2 linked regions of the Homo sapiens genome follow. The protein of the gene in region 1 purifies or fractionates together with the protein of each later gene. This does not show direct contact. Each region holds a gene or a part of one and is shown on either strand. Other genes may lie near its edges.

Region 1 (5,549 bases):
TTGAGACAGGGTCTTCGTCACCCAGGCTGGAGTGCAGCGGTGTGATTTCAGATCACTGCAGCCTCAACCTCCCGGGCTCAAGTGATTCTCCTGCCTCAGCCTCTCAATTAGCTGGGAAGAGTTCCTTATTTCAACTCCTAGATGATGAGATTTTGTTGTAAGTTGTTTTCAGAAAGGACTCAGAAATGCCGTATTCCCTGGATTCTTTTGTGTTTGAGAATGCCTGCCTTTTGCCTTTAAAGTAGAATATACTATGGGCCAGGCGCGGTGGCTCACGCCTGCAATCCAGGCACTGTGGGAGGCGGAGCCGGGTGGATCACCCGAGGTCAGGAGTTTGAGACCAGCCTTGCCAACATGGTGAAACCCCGTCTCTACGAAAAATACAAAAATTAGCCGGGCGTGGTAGTGGGCATCTGTAATCCCAGCTACTTGGGAGGCTGAGGCAGGGGAATCACTTGAACCCAGGAGGCAGAGTCTGCAGTGAGCCGAGATAGTGCCACTGCACTCCAGCCTGGGCGACAGAGCGAGACTCCATCCCCCGCCCCTCCACCCCCAAAAGTAGAATATACATAGTTTTGAGGTAATAATTTATTTTCTTGACCCTTGTGCTTCATTGCCCTCTGACATTCAGTGGTAACTTGTTGTCAAGAAATCTGAGCCCAGCTTGATGTTCTCTGCTTAAGGAATCCTCACCTTTGGCTGGACGTGGTGGCTCACGCCTGTATTCCCAGCACTTTGGGAGGCCAAGACAGGTGAGTTACCTGAGGTCAGGAGTTTGAGACCACCCTGAACAATATGGTGAAACCCCGTCTCTAGTAAAAATACAAAATTTAGGGGCTGGGCATGGTGGCTCACGCCTGTAATCCCAGCACTTAGGGAGGCCGAGGCGGGCGGATCACTTGAGGTTGTGAGTTCGAAACCAGGCTGACCAACATGGAGAAACCCTGTCTCTACTAAAGATACAAAATTAGCCAGGCGTGGTGGCGCATGCCTGTAATCCCAGGCTGAGACAGGAGAATAGCTTGAACCCAGGAGGCAGAGGTTGCAGTGAGCCAAGATTGCACCATTGCACTCAAGCCTGGCCAACAAGGGCGAAACTCTGTCTCAAAAAAACAAAACAAAAATTAGCCGGGCTTGCTAGTCCCAAACTCCTGACCTCAGGTGACCCACCCGTCTCGGCCTCCCAAAGTGCTGGGATTTCTTGGGAGGCTGAGACAGGAGAATTGCTTGAACCTGGGGGGTGAAGGAGGTTGCAGTGAGCTGGGATCGTGCCAGTGCACTCCAGCCTGGGCAACAGAGCGAGACTCTGTCTCAAAATAAATAAATAAATAAATAAATAAATAAATAAATAAAATAATCCTCATCTTCACCTTTATGCTCAGTAGCTTTTCTAAAGATTCTGACTTTCTAATGAGCATTTTATAGCTTTCAATCTGCAGACTTTATTCTTTCCATATAAAGGAAATTTCCTTATATCTCTGAATATGTTTCCTATTCCATTCGTTACTTCCTTTTCTTCAGGACACCAAATATTGTTATGTTGAGCCATCTTTGTCTTCTATATTTATTAGTTTTTCTTTCCCATAATTTCTTTCTTCTTCTTTTTTTTTTTTTGAGACAGGGTCTCACTCTGTTGGCCAGGCTGGAATGCAGTGGCGCAGTCTTGGCTCACTGCAGCCTCAAGCAATCCTCCCATCTCCGCCTCCCAAGTAGCTGGGACTACAGGCGCCTGCCACCACACCCGGCTAATTTTTGTATTTTTTGTAGAGACGGGGTTTTGCCATTTTGCCCAGGCTTCTTCCTTTTTTATTGCCATTTACTTGTGATTTTCTTAAACCAGTAATTGTTTTCATTTGTGTCTTTTTTCTTGCCATTTTGAATTTATTAGTTCTGGAATGATCTTTTCTGGGTATTCTGTTTGTTCCCTAGGGCCGTGGTCTTTCTTTTCATCTCTTTATGTTGCTTAATAACCTGATTGAGGCTGGGTGCCGTGGCTCACACCTGTAATCCCAGCACTTTGGGAGGCCGAGGCGGGTGGATTGCCTGAGCTCAGGAGTTCATGACCACCCTGGGCAACATGGTGAAACCTCGTCTCTACTGAAATACAAAGAATTAGCCAGGCGTGGTGGTGCACGCCTATGGTTCCAGCTACTTGGGAGGCTGAGGCAGGAGAATCACTTGAACCCAGAAGGCGGAGGTTGCAGTGAGCCGAGATCGCCCCACTGCATTCCAGCCTGGGTGACAGAGGGAGACCCTATCTCCAAAAAAACAAAAACAAAACAAAACAGGCCAGGTGAGGTGGCTCACGCCTGTAATCCCAGAACTTTGGGAGGCAGAAGCAGGTGGATCACTTGAGGTCAGGAGTTCCAGACCAGCCTGGGCAACATGGTGAAACCGTGTCTCTACTAAAATATAAAATTTAGCCAGGTATGGTGGTGCGTGCCTGTAATCCCAGCTACTCAGAAGGCTCAGGTGGGAGAATCGCTTGAACCCAGGAGGTGGAGGTTGCAGTGAGTTGAGATCATCCCACTGCACTCCAGCCTGAGCGACAGAGCGAGATTCCCTCTCAAAAAACCAAACCAAATCAAACAAAATCATAACCTGGCCAGGTGCGGTGGCTCACGCCTGTAATCCCAGCACTTTGGGAGGCCGAGGTAGGTGGATCACCTGAGGTCAGGAGTTCGAGACCAGCCTGACCAAGATGGTGAAATCCCGTCTCTACTAAAAATGCAAAAAAAAAAAAAAATTAGCCGAGCGTGATGGCGCATGCCTATAATCCCAACTACTTGGGAGGCTGAAGCATGAGAATTGCTTGAATCTGGGAGGTGGAGGTTGCAGTGAGCCTAGATCTTGCCATTGCACTCCACCCTGGGCAGAAGAGCGAAACTCTGTCTCCAAAAAAAAAGTTAAAAAATTTGATAACCTGATTGAGTACTTATTTCATTGAGTTTATAAGCTTACATTGTTCTAGTATTGTGAATTAATTGTGAGGAATAACTCTTCGTTCCTTGATTTGTATTACTTCCTAGGTTGATTTTTTTCTTTCTTTTCTTTTCTTTTTTTTTTTGGACTGAGTTTCGGTCTTGTTGCACAAGCTGGAGTGCAATGGCGCAATCTTGGCTCACCTTAACCTCCACCTCCCAGGTTCAAGCGATTCTCCTGCTCAGCCTCCCAAGTAGCTGGGATTACAGGCGTGCACCACCACGCCCTGCTAATGTATTTTTAGTAGAGATGGGATTTCTCCATGTTGTTCAGGCTGGTCTCAAACTCCTCACCTCAAGTGATCCACCCGCCTCAGCCTCCCAAAGTGGGATTACAGGTGTGGGCCACCGTGCCCAGCCAAATTTTTTCTCTTACACAGCTCCTTCCTTCCTTCTTTCCTTCCTTCTTCCTTCCTTCCACTGGAAGTTTCTTTCTTTTCTTCAATATTTTTTGAAAAATTGTTTTGTGGACCAGGTGTGGTGGCTCACGTCCGTAATCCCAGCACTTTGGGAGGCCGAGGCAGATGGATCACCTGAGGTCAGGAGTTCGAGAACAACCTGACCAACATGGAGAAACCCCATCTCTACTAAAAATACAAAAGTAGCCAAGTGTGGTGGTTCATGCCTGTAATCCCAGCTACTCGGGAGTCTGAGGCAGGAAGATTGCTTGAACCCAGGAGGCAGAGTTTGTGGTGACCTGAGATCACGCCATTGCACTTCAGCCTGGGCAACAAGAGTGAAACTCCATCTCAAAAAAAAGAAAAAAAGAAAAATTGTTTTGTGGAGATGGTGGTCTTGTCATGCTGCCTAGGCTGGTCTTGAACTTCTGGCCTTAAGAGATCCTCCCGCCTCAGCCTCCAAAATTGCTGGGATTACAGGCGTGAGCCATGGCACCCAGCAGAAGCTTTGTTCTTCTTTGTTACTCTTTTGTTTTTGCTATTGCATCTTTGTTTATTGCCATTTGGCTGCATTTCATTTTGTTGTGCCCATACATCATAATTGCTCTGATATAATGTGGGGGATTTTTAATTGCTCTGATATGATGTGGGGGATTTTTAATTGCTCTGATATGATGTGGGGGATTTTTAATTGCTCTGATATGGTGTGGGTTTTTTTTTTAAGTTCCCCTCCCCACCATATCTGAGACTATTTTATTTTCCCCTCAGAACCGTGATTTAAGGGCTGAGTATTATTCTAGACACATTTCTGTATAATTTGGGATTGGTTAGAGAAAGGAGGAAGCTCAGCTGAGTTGTGTGCAGTGTTTTTTAAAAATAACTTGGACTCTGTCTTTACACACTCTGAATCAGGTTCATGCCCCACATGGGAGATTGCCTGTAGTCTTCAGATTGTCCCGTTTACAGTGTAATCTTGGAACCTGCACGTTCATCAGAGAGAGCTGGCTCTTTCAGCTTCGCTTATTTCACTTCTTTTGTTTTTTTAAAACTCTTTCCACTATTCCTTGGTCAAAAAAGTAGAAAGATTCAAAAATGCCCATTCCATTTTTTTCTCTTCAGACTTGGTGTTAGTGAGAATTTTCAGGATTTTGCTGCTTTAGCAACGTAGTTTCTGGAGTAAACAGCTAAATGGTGCTGGATCACCTCGTTTTGCTCTGGAATCTTCATTTTTTTTCTTGTCTGTCTTACTGAACAGCTTACAGTTTCTTGGAGATCCCATGCTCTCCTGCTGTGCACATGCCCCTCGTTCTCGGACGTGTGGGGAGATGGGGCTGACCTGGTCCCCTCTTACTCAGCCCTCAAGACTCAGTTTATTGGCCGGCCACATCTTCCAAGAAGTCTTTTCCAGTGATTTCTTGCCACTGCCCAGACAAACAGAGGAACTGCCCCCACTGGCTCTGTGTTCCTGATGTACATCATACATGCCACTCCTTGAATTATAAGCATACTCAATTTATAATTTATTTTTCTATTTTCTTTTTTTTTTTTTTTTTCGAGATGGAGTTTTGCTCTTGTTACCCAGGCTAGTGTGCAATGGTGCGATCTCAGCTCACTGCAACCTCCGCCTCCCAGGTTCAAGCAATTCTCCTGCCTCAGCCTCCCGAGTAGCTGGGGTTACAGGGATCTGCCACCATGCCTGGCTAATTTTTATATTTTTTAGTAGAGACGGGGCTTAACCATGTTGGCCAGGCTTGTCTCAAACTCCTGACCTCAGGTGATCCACTGGCCTCACCTTCTGAGAGTGCTGGGATTACAGGCGTGAGCCACCGTGCCCGGCCTATTTTTCTATTTTCCTTTGAGTTCTTTATTACTGTGAGTTCTTTAAGGCAAGAAAAACGTCTTATTTATTTCTCTATCTTGAAGGTTCAGCTCACTAGCTGACTTATAGTAGGGGAAAAAGGAAGGAAGCTAAGGTTTATTGAAGGACTAGTATTTAACAGCACTGTTTAGATGCTTTAGATATTACTATATCTGACCGGGCGCGGTGGCTCACGCCTGTAATCCCAGCACTTTGGGAGGCCAAGGTGAGTGGATCACCTGAGGTCAGGAGTTCGAGACCAGCCTGGGCAACATGGTGAAACACCTTTTCTACTAAAAATACAAAAATTAG
Region 2 (5,234 bases), on another chromosome or scaffold:
TGGGAGGCGGAGACTGCAGTGGGCTGAGATCATGCCATTGCACTCCAGCCTGGGCAACAAGAACGAAACGCCGTCTCAAAAAACAAAAAATAATAATAATAATAACCTTATTTAGATGCTAAGAAAGGCAATTCAACAGACATAAAAAAGCAAAAAACTTAATTATTTTTATTTTTTAGAAAGCCTACATTATGATATACCTTTCCTGTTTAACAGTAAGAGATTTTATTTCATGAATATCTTAAAAATCCAAAGTATTAACAAAAAAAGACAAAGCCATTCCCAATGCCAATCTAGACTCTGAAGGCCTGAGAATATTCGACTTCCTCTACATAAACTCCAACTTGAAACAAAGTTTGTGCTAATCAACATTTTGAAGGCACAAGGAAGACAAATTGTGCTAGGTCCTGAGAATGAAAGGATGAAGTACAGTATTGGCCAAAAAAGATTGCGTCTAGGGGACAGAAACACTAAACTGATCATTACAACAGTATGCAAGTGCTATGCAAGGTACTGGGATAGCTGGAAATTATTGGTCTTAGGACAGTACAGAAGGGTGCTTTATATAGATGGGACTGTGAAGGGCTTGGAGGGGAGATAGGACAGTGAAGGAATTGAAGAAAGTCTTCCTAAAAGAAGTGATGTACATGCAGAATTGATCCTTAACTGATTTAATGATCAGTAACAGTTTAAGTTACCTCTTCAATGGCTTTTTGTCTTTTGTCTTCCACATCTTTATCTATTCTATACAAAGATAAAGAAGAAAAATAACCATGCTATTACTTAAGCTTATTGAACATTTTAAAAAATAACCTTTCAAATAAATAATCTCCCTTCATTGAAAACTGGCAAATGTTAAGCTCACTTTATAATTAATACTAGTGGTATCTTGTAACATTTAGTAACATTTAGGCAGTATTCTGAAATTCAGCAGTTAGCTGTTAGGCTTACCTCCCTCTTTTCCATTCAAAGTTTGAATGCAATGATACTTTATTTCAAAAGACTTACATTGATATTAAATTGCTTTTAACAATATAAATTTGATAAACTTTGTCCCTTAATACAAATTAAGAAGTATTTAATTCAACATACATCTAAAAATTGTCCAAAGTTTTTCTCTTCAATTATAACAAGTTTATCATGGCAATAATTTTAGAATCAACTTTTACTGTAAAATAGATGAGGATAGTTCACAGTTCTAAACAGTCAAAAATATTAACTCTGAAATAAAACACTGACAATATAACATTTTTTCCAAATGAATTTTTTTTTCACTTTGATACAATCTGCAATTACTGTTATATAAACTTCTCAGCTACAAGATTTAATATAAAATTTTGGGTCCAAGCACAAAGCATATACTTGCCAAGGACTCAGCAGTTAGCTTTCTAGGACCACTTCTTTATTCCATTACAGGAAAGAATCCTTGCCTTCCATCAGTAAATTGGTAAGACATATTTTTTTTTACAATTTAAAATTATTTTGTCTCAGAATTTTTTCTTTAACTTTTATTTTAAGTTCAGGGGTACAAATGCAGGTTACACAGGTAACTTGTGTCACTGGGGTTTGTTGTACAGATTATTTAATCATCCAGGTATTAAGTCTAGAATCCATCAGTTATTTTTCCTGATCTCCCTCCTCTCACCCTCCACCAGGCCCCAGTGTGTGCTGTTCCCCTCTATATGTCCACATGCTCTCATCATTTAGCTCCCACTTATAAGTGAGAACATGAGGGGTTTGGTTTTCTGTTCCTGTATTAGTTTGCTAAGAATAATGGCCTCCAGCTGCATCCATGTCCATGCAAAGGACGCGATCTCATGCTTTTTGTGGCTGCATAGTATTCCATGGTGTGAATTTTTTTCACATATAGACTTGCTCATGGCTTAATAAAGCTTATATGAGAATGTATACATTTCAGAAATTAAGTAGATTTTTCAAGTGGGAGAAGTATGAGAAAATAAACTACAGTGTCAACCCACATATCCCAGCTTGAACAGTAGCCATTTTGAGGATAACAAAATGGCCTTCATCTTATCAATGGTTCTCTTCATCTTATCATGGTCAAAATGGCAGCACATAACAAGCTTAGCAAATAGCAAGTAAGCTCTGAACTAGGATTACTGCATTCAGAAACCTTTTGCTACTTCATCAGAGGGACTTCAAGAACATGAAATACTCAGGTGATTGCTGGAAACTGTAAAAATCACTGTGGCCAAATACTCTAGAGTCAGATCAAACAAGATTCTAAGAAGTCATACAGGGGAGAGCATCCTGACCAGCATACCACTGAACACCAGTATGATGCATATAGGTATAGGTGTGGCCTGAATGTTGAGCCTTTGCAGGGTGGCAAAGGAGAGGGGACCTCAGGACTGGTCACCTACATGGCCAAGACTCACCTGCTTACACTGGTATGCTTTTCAGTTACAATTTTCTGTGTGGATGGTGGCATGAAAAGGATGGGAAGAATTGAAGTAGAGGGCTAATATGTAAGAAGAGATACTGAAAGACACTGCTTGTTTCTAAGGATGAAACGAGATGCTCTGTGAAGAATATATTGACTATCCTTGGTAGAAGCCATAACCATTCATTGAATTATATTATTAAATTAAATTATAATATTTTCCCACTCTTTTCCATTCTTCTATATGATAAATCTATGTACTAAGAGACACCAAGATTATCTTTATAAACCTTTGCAGACAATATATCATTTAGTAGTAAGAACAGAAGCACTGTGTTACAACTTTGGTCTAATTATATTTTTGACTCTTGACTCTTAGTATCTTGTACTTCTTCAGTGTTTCTTACAGTCCCTCACAGTACTCAATAAGTATCTCTTGACTGATCAATATAATAATTGTCCATCATTCAATATATTGAAGAAATGAGACAAAATAATTAAGCATAATTAAGTTCGTGTGAAACAAAAAATTAGTCACTGTGACTCATTTGCTTTTAGATATTCATCTCACCTTCTCTTTCAAAGGTATTATTTATTTACTTATTTATTTATTTTATTTTTTTGAGATGGAGTCTTGCTCTGTCCCCCAGGCTAGAGTGCAATGGCATGATCTCAGCTCACTGCAACCTTTGCCTCCTGGGTTCAAGCGATTCTCCTGTCTCGGCCTCCCGAGTAGCTGGGATTACAGGTGTGCACCACCATGCCCGGCTAATGTTTTTGTATGTTTAGTAGAGATGGGGTTTCACTATGTTGGCCAGCCTGGTCTTGAACTCATGACCTCAAGTGATCTGCCCGCCTCAGCCTCCCAAAATGCTGGGATTACAGGTGTGAGCCACCACACCTGGCCTCAAAGGTATTATTTAAATTTAAGTTAAAATCCTTTCATGCTTCATCCTCATTCTATTCCCTTCCTATTAACACTCTGGGTGGACATTAATTTTATGATTGAATGGTCATCATGTTACCAAGCAAAGAGAAGATGGAGGAGAAAAGCCAGTAAGTATTTACCAGAATATCTCAATATGTGTGCAACGTTGTGTGACTGAATTCTTAAGTCAAAGGGAAAAGGATTATCCTTTGTTTTGGACTAACAACATGTCTACCTTAGGACAGCAAATTAAAATCTGGTCATACCATGTATTTGATTTTTTTCAAATATTAAAAAATCAGACTATAAAACATATAAACAAGAGTCCCTAAAACTACAAAAGAATAATAGGACCTTACACTTTGTAATAAAAAACTAAATCTGCAGTACATTAGTGCCTTGAAACCTAAACAACACATCAACAAATAAGACTGCACTGGGTGATATGTAGAATTCTAGAAAATGTAATTCAGATTCCAAGTGAATTGTTACAGTTGGATGATGTCTAAAAAACCGCTCTGTTGCTAATGGATACCCTTCCATTCAGTGCATACGTAACTCTTTGAGGGGGTTTTAGGTTTCCCCAAACATAGATAACAATGAAACAGCATTTTGCTTTACCCCAAATCATCAAAAAGACAAACTGAAACAAGTTAATGGCAGAAGCCACAACCATGTAGAAAAGTGCAAATTTCAAAATGTTCTTCTCTTAACTGAGTGCTAGGGGTACAGAGCTGTCACCTCAGTAGCAGAGGGAAAAGGTTACTTGTAAAAGAAAAAGGTATCTACTCAGGTCTGGAACTGTTGGCAAGAAAATCTTTCTGAATGTAGTTCTTTGAACTCATTCATTTAGATAGAAAAAATCTGCATCAAAATTTTTTCTCCCTGATACCTTTACATAGAAAAATACTCAACATTTAGAATTTCCTACCTCTCTTCACTTGAGAGTGTTATTAGACTTAGGTGCAAGAAAGGAAAACTTACCGAGAATGACTTAAGTATAAAGCTTGACGATGAATATCTTCTGGGTCTATTTCTACAGGATTTATTACAGCTAGTTGATCAATAGACCATCTAAATTTCCCTGGAGTCTTAACAAAAGAAAGTGAGCTTATGAGTAAAGGCAAACTAAAATAGTTCATCAAAATGCTAACCTATGTGAGAAATAATATGAATGGTTATAATATGAAAATATTTTAAAGCTTGTATTTTAAAATTTGACTTTACCATGAAATTAAATGGCAAAGGGTAATCATATCACATTCGATCAACTGACTTAATTGTATCTCTCTCTCTCTTTGTTTAAGACAGAGTCTCGTTCTGTCACCGAGGCTGGAGTGCACTGGTGTAATCTCAGCTCACTGCAACCTCCACCTCCCCGGTTCAAGCGATTCTCCTGCCTCAGCCTCCTGAGTAGCTGGGATTACAGGCACCCGCCACCACACCCAGCTAATTTTTGTATTTTTTTTTTTTTTTTTTTTTTAGTAGAGATGGGGTTTCACCATGTTGGCCAGGCTGGTCTCAAACTCCTGACTTCAAGTCATCAGCCCACCTTGGCAGTGCTGGGATTACAGGCATGAGCCACAGCGCCCAGCCTGTATCTCTTTTAAAATATCAGAATCTTTCACCTGGGTTGGAATTACGTAATACGAGAAAAATCACAACAGAGTAATAAAGATATAAAACTTTCACAATTAACACTCATCAGTGTGATAAACTAAGCCCATGTAAAAGTAAAAATCTCTCACAGTTAACAAACGTCTTTACTTTCACTAAGAAGGAACTGAAATTAAAGTCCTTAGTCACTTTGGAGGTGGCTGCAAAAGCTCACAACATAGTTGATCCTTAAAATAATTATGAATGGCAACCAGTGCTGCCTTTCTGTACTCAACCATGCAACTG

Evidence for each region.
Region 2: the proteins of DYNLT2B (region 1) and BORA purify together in Homo sapiens (affinity purification with mass spectrometry; one large-scale study listed by BioGRID and IntAct). This does not show direct contact.

The regions. Positions count from the first base shown.
Region 1 is NC_000003.12:196,307,466-196,313,014, reverse strand, and holds part of DYNLT2B (dynein light chain Tctex-type protein 2B), read left to right. Parts: intron 1-5,549. UniProt on the Homo sapiens protein: Acts as one of several non-catalytic accessory components of the cytoplasmic dynein 2 complex (dynein-2 complex), a motor protein complex that drives the movement of cargos along microtubules within cilia and flagella in concert with the intraflagellar transport (IFT) system.
Region 2 is NC_000013.11:72,730,470-72,735,703, reverse strand, and holds part of BORA (protein aurora borealis), read right to left. Parts: intron 4,424-5,234; coding exon 4,317-4,423; intron 745-4,316; coding exon 699-744; intron 1-698. UniProt on the Homo sapiens protein: Required for the activation of AURKA at the onset of mitosis.